Linked DNA regions of Homo sapiens: regions 2 and 3 are each reported to be linked to region 1. Evidence: microRNA targets listed by miRTarBase, many of them from high-throughput screens and not tested one by one. Region 1 holds a microRNA gene; each other region holds the end of a gene's coding sequence. Distances are between the middles of the regions.
The links. Region 1 holds the annotated microRNA hsa-miR-4779 (UAGGAGGGAAUAGUAAAAGCAG, at 1,280-1,301, opposite strand). A microRNA usually pairs through its seed, bases 2 to 8, with sites in the 3' UTR of a target mRNA and lowers its output. Matches are read on the target gene's strand: a 7mer-m8 pairs with bases 2 to 8, a 7mer-A1 pairs with bases 2 to 7 and ends in A, and an 8mer does both.

Region 2: the mRNA of MLF2 is a reported target of hsa-miR-4779. Seed matches in the 3' UTR shown: 7mer-m8 at 2,075-2,081.
Region 3: the mRNA of HPCAL1 is a reported target of hsa-miR-4779. Seed matches in the 3' UTR shown: 7mer-m8 at 695-701.

What each region holds. Positions count from the first base shown.
Region 1 is chr2:86,191,758-86,195,059 of GRCh38, forward strand. MIR4779 (microRNA 4779) reads right to left here and starts at 1,351; the gene lies at 1,269-1,351. All of the region lies in intron 1 of IMMT (inner membrane mitochondrial protein), which reads right to left. RefSeq lists an enhancer at 3,206-3,255.
Region 2 is chr12:6,746,033-6,749,032 of GRCh38, forward strand. MLF2 (myeloid leukemia factor 2) reads right to left here. Exons shown (of 9, transcript NM_001382226.1): 8 at 2,738-2,950; 9 at 1,964-2,515. The coding sequence ends at 2,763. Among named protein-coding and RNA genes, the nearest start is that of MLF2, 5.6 kb to the right of the region's middle.
Region 3 is chr2:10,426,280-10,429,623 of GRCh38, forward strand. HPCAL1 (hippocalcin like 1) reads left to right here. Exons shown (of 5, transcript NM_002149.4): 5 at 445-1,325. The coding sequence ends at 542. Among named protein-coding and RNA genes, the nearest start is that of SNORA80B, 19 kb to the right of the region's middle.

The sequences.
Region 1 (3,302 bases):
AAAAAAAAAAAATTAGGCGTGGTGGCAGGCGCCTGTAGTCCCAGCTACTTGGGAGGCTGAGGCAGGAGAATGGCATGAACCCGGGAGGCGGAGCTTGCAGTGTGCTGAAATGGCGCCACTGCACTCCAGCCTGGGTGACAGAGCAAGACTCCATCTCAAAAAAAATTAATAAATAAATAATAAATCTTCCTAGGCTGGGCACTATGGCTCACGCCTGTAATCCCAGCACTTTGGGGAGGAGAAGGTGGGGATATTGCTTGAGCCCAGAAGTTCAAAATGAGCTGGAACAACATTGCGAGATCCCATCTCTACTAAAAGTCCAAAACATTGGCTGGGCATGGTGGCATAAGCCTGTAGTCCCAGCTACTCAGGAGGTGAGGTGGGAGGATCGCTTAAGCCCAGGAGATTGAGACTGCAATGAGTTATGATCACACTGCTGTACTCCAGCCTGGGCAACAGAATGAGACCCTATCTCTACACACACACACACACCCTTATTGTTTCTGTTTCTCTGGAGAATCTGAATATATAATCAGAGGTTTGAAAATCTATGGGATGTTTAAAGGGAGGTCACATCCACTTACACAGATTAAGAAAAATTCCACTTTGGGAGGCCGAGGTGGGCATATCACTTGAGCCCAGAAGCTGAAGACCAGCCTGGGAAACATAATGAGACCCCATCTCTAAAAAATCTTTTTAAATTAAAAAAAAATTCATGAACACATTCATTCTTTCATTTATATATGTCATAAACATTCACTGAGCATCTACTTGGAGCCAGGGACTATTGTTAATACTGGAAATACAGCAGTAAATATGGACACAGTTCCATTGTGGAGCTTACTTTTTAAAGGTGGAAACTGTGTAATAAATACACATTATAACATCAGGTAGTGCTAGGAGCTACAAAGTATAACAAAGTAGGATGGGGTAAAGATATAGTGATACAAGGAAGGCAAGAGTAGTCAGAATTCTATTTTGGATCAGGATGCCCTCTCTGAAGGGAAGGTGACATTTGAGAAATTAACTGAAGGGAATAAGTTAAGCAAACCTGTGAGAAGAGTTCAGGGCAAAAGAAACACCTGATGAAAAGGCAGTGAGGCACATGCTGGAGATTACCAGGAGAATCTGAGTGAGGCAGTAGAAAAATGAAATATGAGAAGAGTCAGATCAAGGGCCCATGGTAAGCAGTTTAGATTTTATTTTGAATGTGATGCGATGTCTCCAAAGAGCATGACCTCATGTTTGCCTTTTAAAAAGCCTTTTACTAAATGTCTTACTGCTTTTACTATTCCCTCCTAGAGTAAAGAATGGACTCTAGGAGGGAACAGTAAAAGCAGTAAGACATTTAAGAAGATGGGGTTGGCTGGGCACGGTGGCTCGTGCCTATATTCCCAGCATTTTGGGAGGCAGAAGTGGGAGGATCATTTGAGCCCAGGAGTTCGAGACCAGCCTGGCCAACACAGAGAGACTCCGTCTCTACAAAAATTTTTTAAAAAATTAGCCAGGGATGGTGGCACATGCCTGTGGTCCCAGCTACTCAGGAGGCTGAGGTAAGAGGATTGCTTGCGCTCAGGAGGTCAAGGCTGCAGTGAGCCATGACTGTGCCACTGCACTCCAGCCTGGGTGACAAAGTGAGACTCCGTATCCAAAAAAAAAAAAAGAAAGATGGGGTTTAATAAAGTGGAAAGGATCTTGACAAGTGAGATATTCTGGATACGTTGATACAATCAAATACGACGAGGCTAGAGAGTCACCTGCTTGGGGATTAAAGTTCTGAGAGTTGATGTAATCTCAAATTAGAGAGTCTATAAAGAGACAGGAAGAGATGAGAAGGTGTATATTTCGAGGTACAAAGCAGAAGCAGACTCAGTAAAGGAAAACAAGAGAGATGGGACCCAAAATATTACTTGAGAGAAGCCAAAAGTACAAAGAGCCTCATAAAGCAGCAATGTCAAATGCTACAGAATTAAGGAGATGGTGAGAATAAACCAAAGAATTTTACAAGACAGCAATTTCAAGAAGCTTAGACATCTTGATTCAGAGCTATAAAAGGGTTCATTTTTTATTACCAAGTTTTAATTAGTTTTCTTAATTCCCAAATGGGATCCCAAAAAGTTGACTCTGAATTAACTGAAAAGGAGGTCATCCAGGTGGGCCTGGTCTAATCACATAAGCCTTTTAAATCTGGGTCTAGAGAGGAAAGACCAAAGTAAAAGAAATTTGGAAGTCAGAGAGGCAAGCTCCTGGTAGCCTGCACGAAAGCAAACATCAATGTTATGAATGGCCTCTAGAGGCCTTGAGGCAAGGAACTGTAGGCAGGCTGTAGAAGCTGGGAGCAGTGGCTGGCAAGAGGCAGCAAGAAAAGAAGTACTTCAGTCCTGTAACTGCAAGGGACTGAATTCTGCCAACAAACTGCATGAGCCTGGAAGAGGACCCTGATCTCCAAATGAGAACCACAGCATGGCTAATACTTTGCAGCCTTATGTGACCTGGAGCGGAGAACACAGATCATCCGTGCCCAGACTTCTATCCTACAGAACCCGTAAGGTCATTCATGGGTGTTGTTTTAAGCTGCTAAATTTGTGGTATTTGTTACGCAGCAATAGAAAACTAACACAGGTTCGTTCCACTTTCCTATGGAAGGGGCTGCTTCTGTTACCTAGCAGCAAATAGGAAGAGAAGCGAACTTGAAAAAACAAAGCTTGACTTTTATGATCTCTAACTCACTATTCCTAGGGATTCTGTTCAATTACTGCTTGAGTCACAGTACTTGGTTTGCTATCTACATTTTGCCAAAATATCAACTTCCTGAAAATCATGAGCAGTGGAAACAGGCTTTTTAATTTTCAATTTTAGAAAGTAACTTTGGCAATTACGCAAAACTAGAAGTAACTGGGTATTTAGGCTCCTTGAATGTCAAAGTAGTCCCAGCGCCTGGAGACACAGATCCCTGCCCTAATCTCAGAAATGAGCCACAAGGTCATGACTCCTGTCTTTCCTTGAAGACCAGGAGTTTCAGCTCCACAAATGAAAATCTTTCGCTTTTGTTTGGATTAAGAATAACTCAGAAGTGTTCTCAGCTGCGAAAAGAAAGGCACTCCCTCCCAGATAATTACAACCTTGACCCCTAAAATGTGGACTCTCGCTAGAAGTCCAGGCACCTCCTTATTAAGGATGCAACAAGCCGCCGCTCCGCTCGTCCTGACGGGAACTGTAGTTCTCGCCCGTCGACCTTCAGCACTGAAAACCTATCGCGCGCCCAACCGGCGACCCAGACGCCAGCAGCCAGGATTGGTCCT
Region 2 (3,000 bases), not on the chromosome of region 1:
GCTGGGCCCAGATGGAGAGCTGACCGGAAGTAGAGTATCTGTGTCCCTCGGGAAAGTTCCTTTCCTCTTCCTCTCCCGTGGCCCTTACCCCAGTGGCAGACAGGTCAGGACGTGCTAGGGGGCTGGTTCTTGAGCATCTCACTCTACTGATGCTAACACCTCACTTCCCACAACATATCCCTGCTGAGAACTAGTCACAGGCCCCAGGAGTAAGTGCTGGGCTGAAGGGTGGTCCAAACCCTACAGCAGGGAGCAGGAGTACAAATCAGTTCACATGTCTAAAGGCTGGGACCTGAACAGGGGAGTCCCTGAAACACTGGACTGACTCACCTGGACTGAGGTCAGGGCAGCCTTACTCTGCCGCAGTCACACTCAAGACTACACATGCGCGTGTGGGCACTGGAACTAAAATCCGGGTTGAGAGGCTGGGCCTGATATTTTGTGGCTAGAAGGGCCCCACATAACTCAGGTCCAGGGAGGTGAGTGACCTGCCCAAGACCACAAGGCTGTCAGTGGCCGAGCTAAGGACTGAGGCTCCTTCAACTCCAGGTTACCTTGCTGCCTTCTCAGGAGAGTGAAGAAAACGACTCCCTTCTCAGAGGAAACAGTCGTGTGCTTATCTGGACAGGGCAAGATTACACTTAAAGATGAGGGCTGTGAAGCCAGGCGTAGCAGCTCACGTCTTAATCCCAGCACTTTGGGAGGCCAAGGCAGGTGGATCACTTGAGTCCAGGAGTTCGAGACCAGCCTGGCCAACATGGTGAAACCCTGCCTCTACTAAAAATACAAAAATTAGCCGGGCGTGGTGGTGTGCGCCTGTAGTCCCAGCTACTCAGGAGGCTGAGGCAGGAGAATCTCTTGAACTGGGGAGGCGGAGGTTGCAGTGAGCTGAGATCACGCCACTGCTTGGGTGACACAGCAATACTCCATCTCAAAAAAAAAAAAGATAAAAAGATGAGGGCCATGGCTGCTGAGTTCCATCATCCACAGTTCAGAGCCCAGGTGGTGGTGAATAATCCACACTAGATTGACTTCTGGGATTCCTGGATTCTTTCACCACTGGGTTCCCTTGACCCGGTCATGCATCTTCACCAGCCTAGCCTACTTACTGAGATTTAGTAACTGCACTGGACTAGGACACCAGTGCCTGGTTGTTGAGCTCAACTTCATCTCTCTGCTTGTTGAGTCACTGGACAAATCCTCCTTATCCTCTTGAATCTACTCGTCCACGAGACACAGGGGAAGATCCTCCCTTCCCTGAGAGGACCCAGAGCCTTAGGTGTCTTTGTGTCCCTACCAACTGAAAAGAACTCAAGACTTTCATAAAGAGGAAACCATTATCAGACTCTCCTACACATTTGTCATCATTAAGTAAGTTCCCAAGAGGAACAGAGTGACCCATTTGGCTGGGCAAAGCAAGAGCAAACGTCTTGAGAAATTTGAGCTCCTCATGCCCTTCCAGTCCTGCTCAGGTTCCAGGTTAGTTTTCTTCTCTAGGCTCCTTCCCTGGGCTCAAATTCTCAACTACTGTGGGTGGAGGGTTTGTGGAACGCTGCAGACCAGAGTTCCTCCCCTCTGAAGGCCTGTGTAGGGTTATCTGAAGTGTTTCCACCCAGAGTGCAGGAAAGAAACTCTGTCCAAGGGGCAAGGGGCAGCAAGTTCCGCAGGCACCCATGAGAGATGCCCAACACATCCCTGAAGAGCAAAGTTACAGCAGAATGTGAGGGAAGAGCCAGCGAGAGAGGTGCTCATGTTCTCACGCCCCAGCCTAGCCCAGCCAAGTGCTCACGGCCTGCACCTGGCAGTGCTGATGGTCTGTCCGTACCAAGGAGATGTGGGCTTGAACTCTGAGGTACGAAGACTACAGGTGGAGACGAGGAAAAGTGAGAAGGTAACTTCAGAGGAGACAGCAGGGTTGAATTGAACAGGAAAAGATCAAAAGTACAGCCAGAATCCCACTTGGTCTTTTTTCCATTCTCCTTTATTCCATAAACACCTAGTTACAAGTTGCACAAATCAAAAAATAAAGGCAGAGAAGGGTGTAGGGAAGATTCTTTTGATGTGTGTGGGCAGGAGGAGGGAGAGAGTTAGGAACCAGTCTGCTCCTTCCACAGCCCTAGATAGGGCTACGGCCCCTCAGTGGGGGCTCTGAGGAAGAGGTGGGCAAAGATCCAGGGTAGCTGAGGGATGGAGGGGGCCCCTAAACCCAGAGCTCACCCCAAAATGCATTGACCCTTCAATGCATGGCAGGAGTAGGATGGGAAAGGTGAGGGGGTTTGAAGATGGAGTGGCAGAATGAAAAATCAAGTCAGTAGATGCAGAGGCGAAGTCATCAATGGTAAACCAGGAGATTAAAGAAGGAAAAGGTAGGGAAAGGGTGCCGTGAAAGGTTCTCCCTGAGACCCCCAGGGAGAGGTGGGGGCCGGCTTGCCTGTTAATTTAATATTAAATTGGGGATGGGAATCGAGAGGAAAAAGTTATTCAGGGGATGATTTCTCAGCCTCTCAGCCTGTACCTGGAGGGGGAAAGAGAGAGGAGCACAAGTCAAAAGGAAGAAAAAACTTACGTTAAGAGCCAGGAGTTGGGGTTTAATCCCCTATGTCAGTGAGAACATTGTTCTCTTTCCATGTCAACTTGTACTACCAAAGGCAGCTCCTGCGGGAGCCTGAACTGAGCCTGCCTTGCAGCCGAGGACCGTCCGCAGGTGCACCCCACCCTCCTTACTCCTGATACTTACAAGAGAGGCTGAGGGCCCGGGGCCCTCACCAGTCATAGCGGCGGGACTGTCGGGAAGGGGAGTCCTCAGGTCCCTGGATGGCCAGGCGGGGAGGCCCCTCCGCCCTTCGTCCCCCAGCCCCTGAGGACTCAAGCCGCCGAAACTCCAGGGGACGCTGCTGCCGGAATCGGGAGGTCTCCCGCCGCCACTCGTCATCAAACGCTGCGGCCTCACCTGGAAAGGACAGAGCGGACATGAGGCCTGTGTGCGGCCTGGCTCCTGGA
Region 3 (3,344 bases), 76 Mb from region 1:
TGAGCAGCGGGTCTACGCTGATGCCAGGGAGGATCCGGACCGTGCTTCCGGGGGCCCCCAACCAGCATGGCCTTCTCAGCCTGGATTCTGTATGGGTTAGAGGCAAATGCTTCATTTTTCTGCACAGTGTACACGTTCCTTAATAAGCGAAGTGTGGGGTGATTTCTAAAAGGATTTAAATGGCCCTCATCAGCCACGTCCTGCTGAGCTTGCTGGGTAAGCCCTTTGAGGTACCTGATGTATTGCAGGGAGCAGGGAAAGGAAAAAGGATTTTTTTTCAGAAATGCCTGTAAAGTGAATGGAGACTAGACACCGTCCAGCTTCAAGAAGGCTCAGGACTTTCAACAAAGGGAGCATACCTGACCTGAGAGCTGTCCCCATCCTCTCTGGAAGCATAAAGAACAGTGAGCACTGGCTAATCCCATTGTCTCTGGTCCCCTGCAGGCAAACTGTCCTTGGAAGAATTCATCAGAGGTGCCAAGAGCGACCCCTCCATCGTCCGCCTGCTGCAGTGCGACCCCAGCAGTGCCAGTCAGTTCTGAGCGAGCGGCCCCTGGACAGTTGCAGAGAAACACAGGCTTGTCGTGCCGTTTAAGCTTTGCTTGCAAGAGTGGATGCCCCGCAATCGTTCCTGCTCTCCCGGGCCCCGGGCCTGGGGCATGCGTTGCACCTGCCCAGCCCGGTGGCTGCGCCTCCCTCCTCCACCTGACCAACGCGACATTCCTCCCCTCACGCCTGGCCCGGTCCCTTCCAGGGCAACTCCCAGGGATGTGGTGACATGCAGGGTTCAAGTGTTCTTGGTTCCAGGCACCTCCCGGCTCACGGGGAGCTCAGAGGTCCATGCCGAGGAGACCAGGCAGGACCTCCCGAGGCTGCGCCCCGGCCGGCCCATGCGTTTTGTGATCCCAAGTGACTCTGTGGGAAGGGTGGGGACGAGGCGTCGGGAGGGTATACAGGGAGCCCCTCCCGTGCATGGCTGCCCCCCCGTTCATTTTCTCCACCACAGCCGCTTGCACGTATAGATACTGTGGTCCCCTTTCTTTTAATATATAAATTATGTATGGTGAAGTGGAGTGTATTGTGTAGGTCCCGTATTTAATGCCTCTGACTGCCTTTGAAGCGCAGCCCTCTGTGGCCCGCAGCCCCCTGAGCCTGGCTGTTGTGTGGTATTTATGCTCTCTTTGTCTGCCTGTTTCTAAGGAAATGCATGTGTGCCCTGAGCCGTGATGATCCTCCCATCCGTGTTGTGAGCACAGGCATTTGTGTCTGGTCTGTCCTCCCTGTTGATTGGTCTGGCATTTCCGGTATTAAAATGATAAAATAAATGGCATTTTCTGAGTTTTGCGTCTGCCCGCGGGAGCCCCCATTCCTCAGGCCGTGGCCCCTGCACTCTCCAGGCAAGGCGGGTGTGCTGCGTGCCACCGCTGTTGGTAAATCCGGCCCCTCTTACGTCCCTCCAGCTGTCCCCGCGTTTATAAATCTTGCACAGCCTGTTCTTCAATATCTGCCTAATGCCAAGAAATACTCGTGGAAATAAACGATGACTGTTCTTGGCAGATCTGACGGTCAGGCTTCTGCCTCCCCCCAGCCCTTCCCTCTCCTTCTCCTTCCACGGTTTCAGGTCGTAGGAAAGCCACATTCCAAGAGAGGACGGGCATAGCCAAGGGTGCAGTCAGGCTGGACCCAGAGGTGGCAGGCCTGGTTCTCCATCCAGCCTTCGCCGCTGCCGTCAGTGCTTCTGGTCCCAGCAGCAGAAGGCCCAGCTGAAGAAGTGGGGGTTGGTTGGTCTCGCCTGCCAAGGGATCCAAAGGCAGCATCGCTGGGGATCCCCAGGCATCAGCTTGTCTTTTTTTTTTTCTTTTTTTAAGAGAGAGTGTCTCTCTATGTTGCCCAGGCTGGCCTCAACCTCCTGGGCTCCAGCAATCCTTTCGCATCAGCCTCCTGAGTAGCTGGGACCTCGGGTGAACAGCACTGCGCCTCCTAATCACAGTCAGCTTTTCACCTCAGGCTTGTCTTCCTGGGGTGCCTACAACTGCTGTTGTGGTTCTGGGCAGTACAGCTGACATGGGAGCATCAAGAGGCAGGGAGAGAAGCCTCTGTCCTCCCACTGAGGGACAGGAAAACCCTCCAGAATCTGCCCACCACCCCGTCCCCACCAGCCCCACATCTCATGGCTGAAACCATGGCCTGTGTTCACAAGATGACCATGTCATGGCCACGGCTGGCTTACGCTGGTCAAGATGGCCCTTGGCCAAGGTGGCATCTGCCTCCCCCAGAGGGCATAGGGTTGGGAAGGGGTGAGTGGAATGGAGGTTCTATTACCAGGACGGGCACTACGGCGTCTGCCCACCTGCCTGCTGCTGTCGGCTCCTCTGTGCCTCAGTGTCTTCACTGTAGGGGATGGGGGGAGCTGGGTGGCTCAAGGTCACATATGCAAAGCGCATGGCTTGGAACCTGCCTCCCAGCAGGCCTTCAGCAACAGCAGCTAATTTGTTGATTTTAGTCATTTTAATATTTTTTAAGACTCCATGTCTCTTTTAATAGAAATGGTGAGTCTGTTTGCCAAGTGCCTTCTGAGTCAATGGCACTGCTAGAGCTATTTCATAGTAAAACTCTCCATGCACCCAGAGCCACCAAGCCTTGATGGGGGAACCAGGTGGGGTGCGAGATGGAGGCCAGGTGCCCTGGGCAGATCTAGCTTGCTACAAAGAGGCAAGACGGTGCCTTTGGCAACACTGCCTCACCTGGAAGAACAGCCAGTGAACGGCTTGAATTTTATAAACATTTAACTGGGACTGGCAAAGGTTAAATCAAGAGTGCTTGTTGTGGGGAGGGCTCACTTATGATGGGGACAGAGTCCAACAGAAACAGATGGGAGTGACCACTACATTAGTCAGGGTTCTCCAGGAACAGAACTGATAGGAGACATGCATGGATGGGAGGGGTGGGTGGATGGATGGGTGGGTGGGTGGGTGGATGGATGGATGGATGGATGTATGGATGAGTGGGTGAGGGGATGGGTGGGTGAATGGATGGGTGGGTGGATGCATAGACAGGTGGATGCATGGATGGGTGGATGGATGGCTGGGTGGATGGGTTGGTGAATGGGTGGGTCGGTGGGTGGATCGATAGGTGGATGGGTGGGTCGATGGATGGGTCGGTGGGTAGATGGATGGATGGGAGTATGGGTGGATGGGTGGGTGGGTGGATGGGTCCCTAGGTGGATCGGTTGATGGATGAATGGGTGGCTGGATGGATGGATGGATGGGTGGATGGATGGTTGGGTGGGTGGGTGGATGGATGGATGGGTGGATGGGTGGGTGAATGGTTGGGTGGGTGGGTGG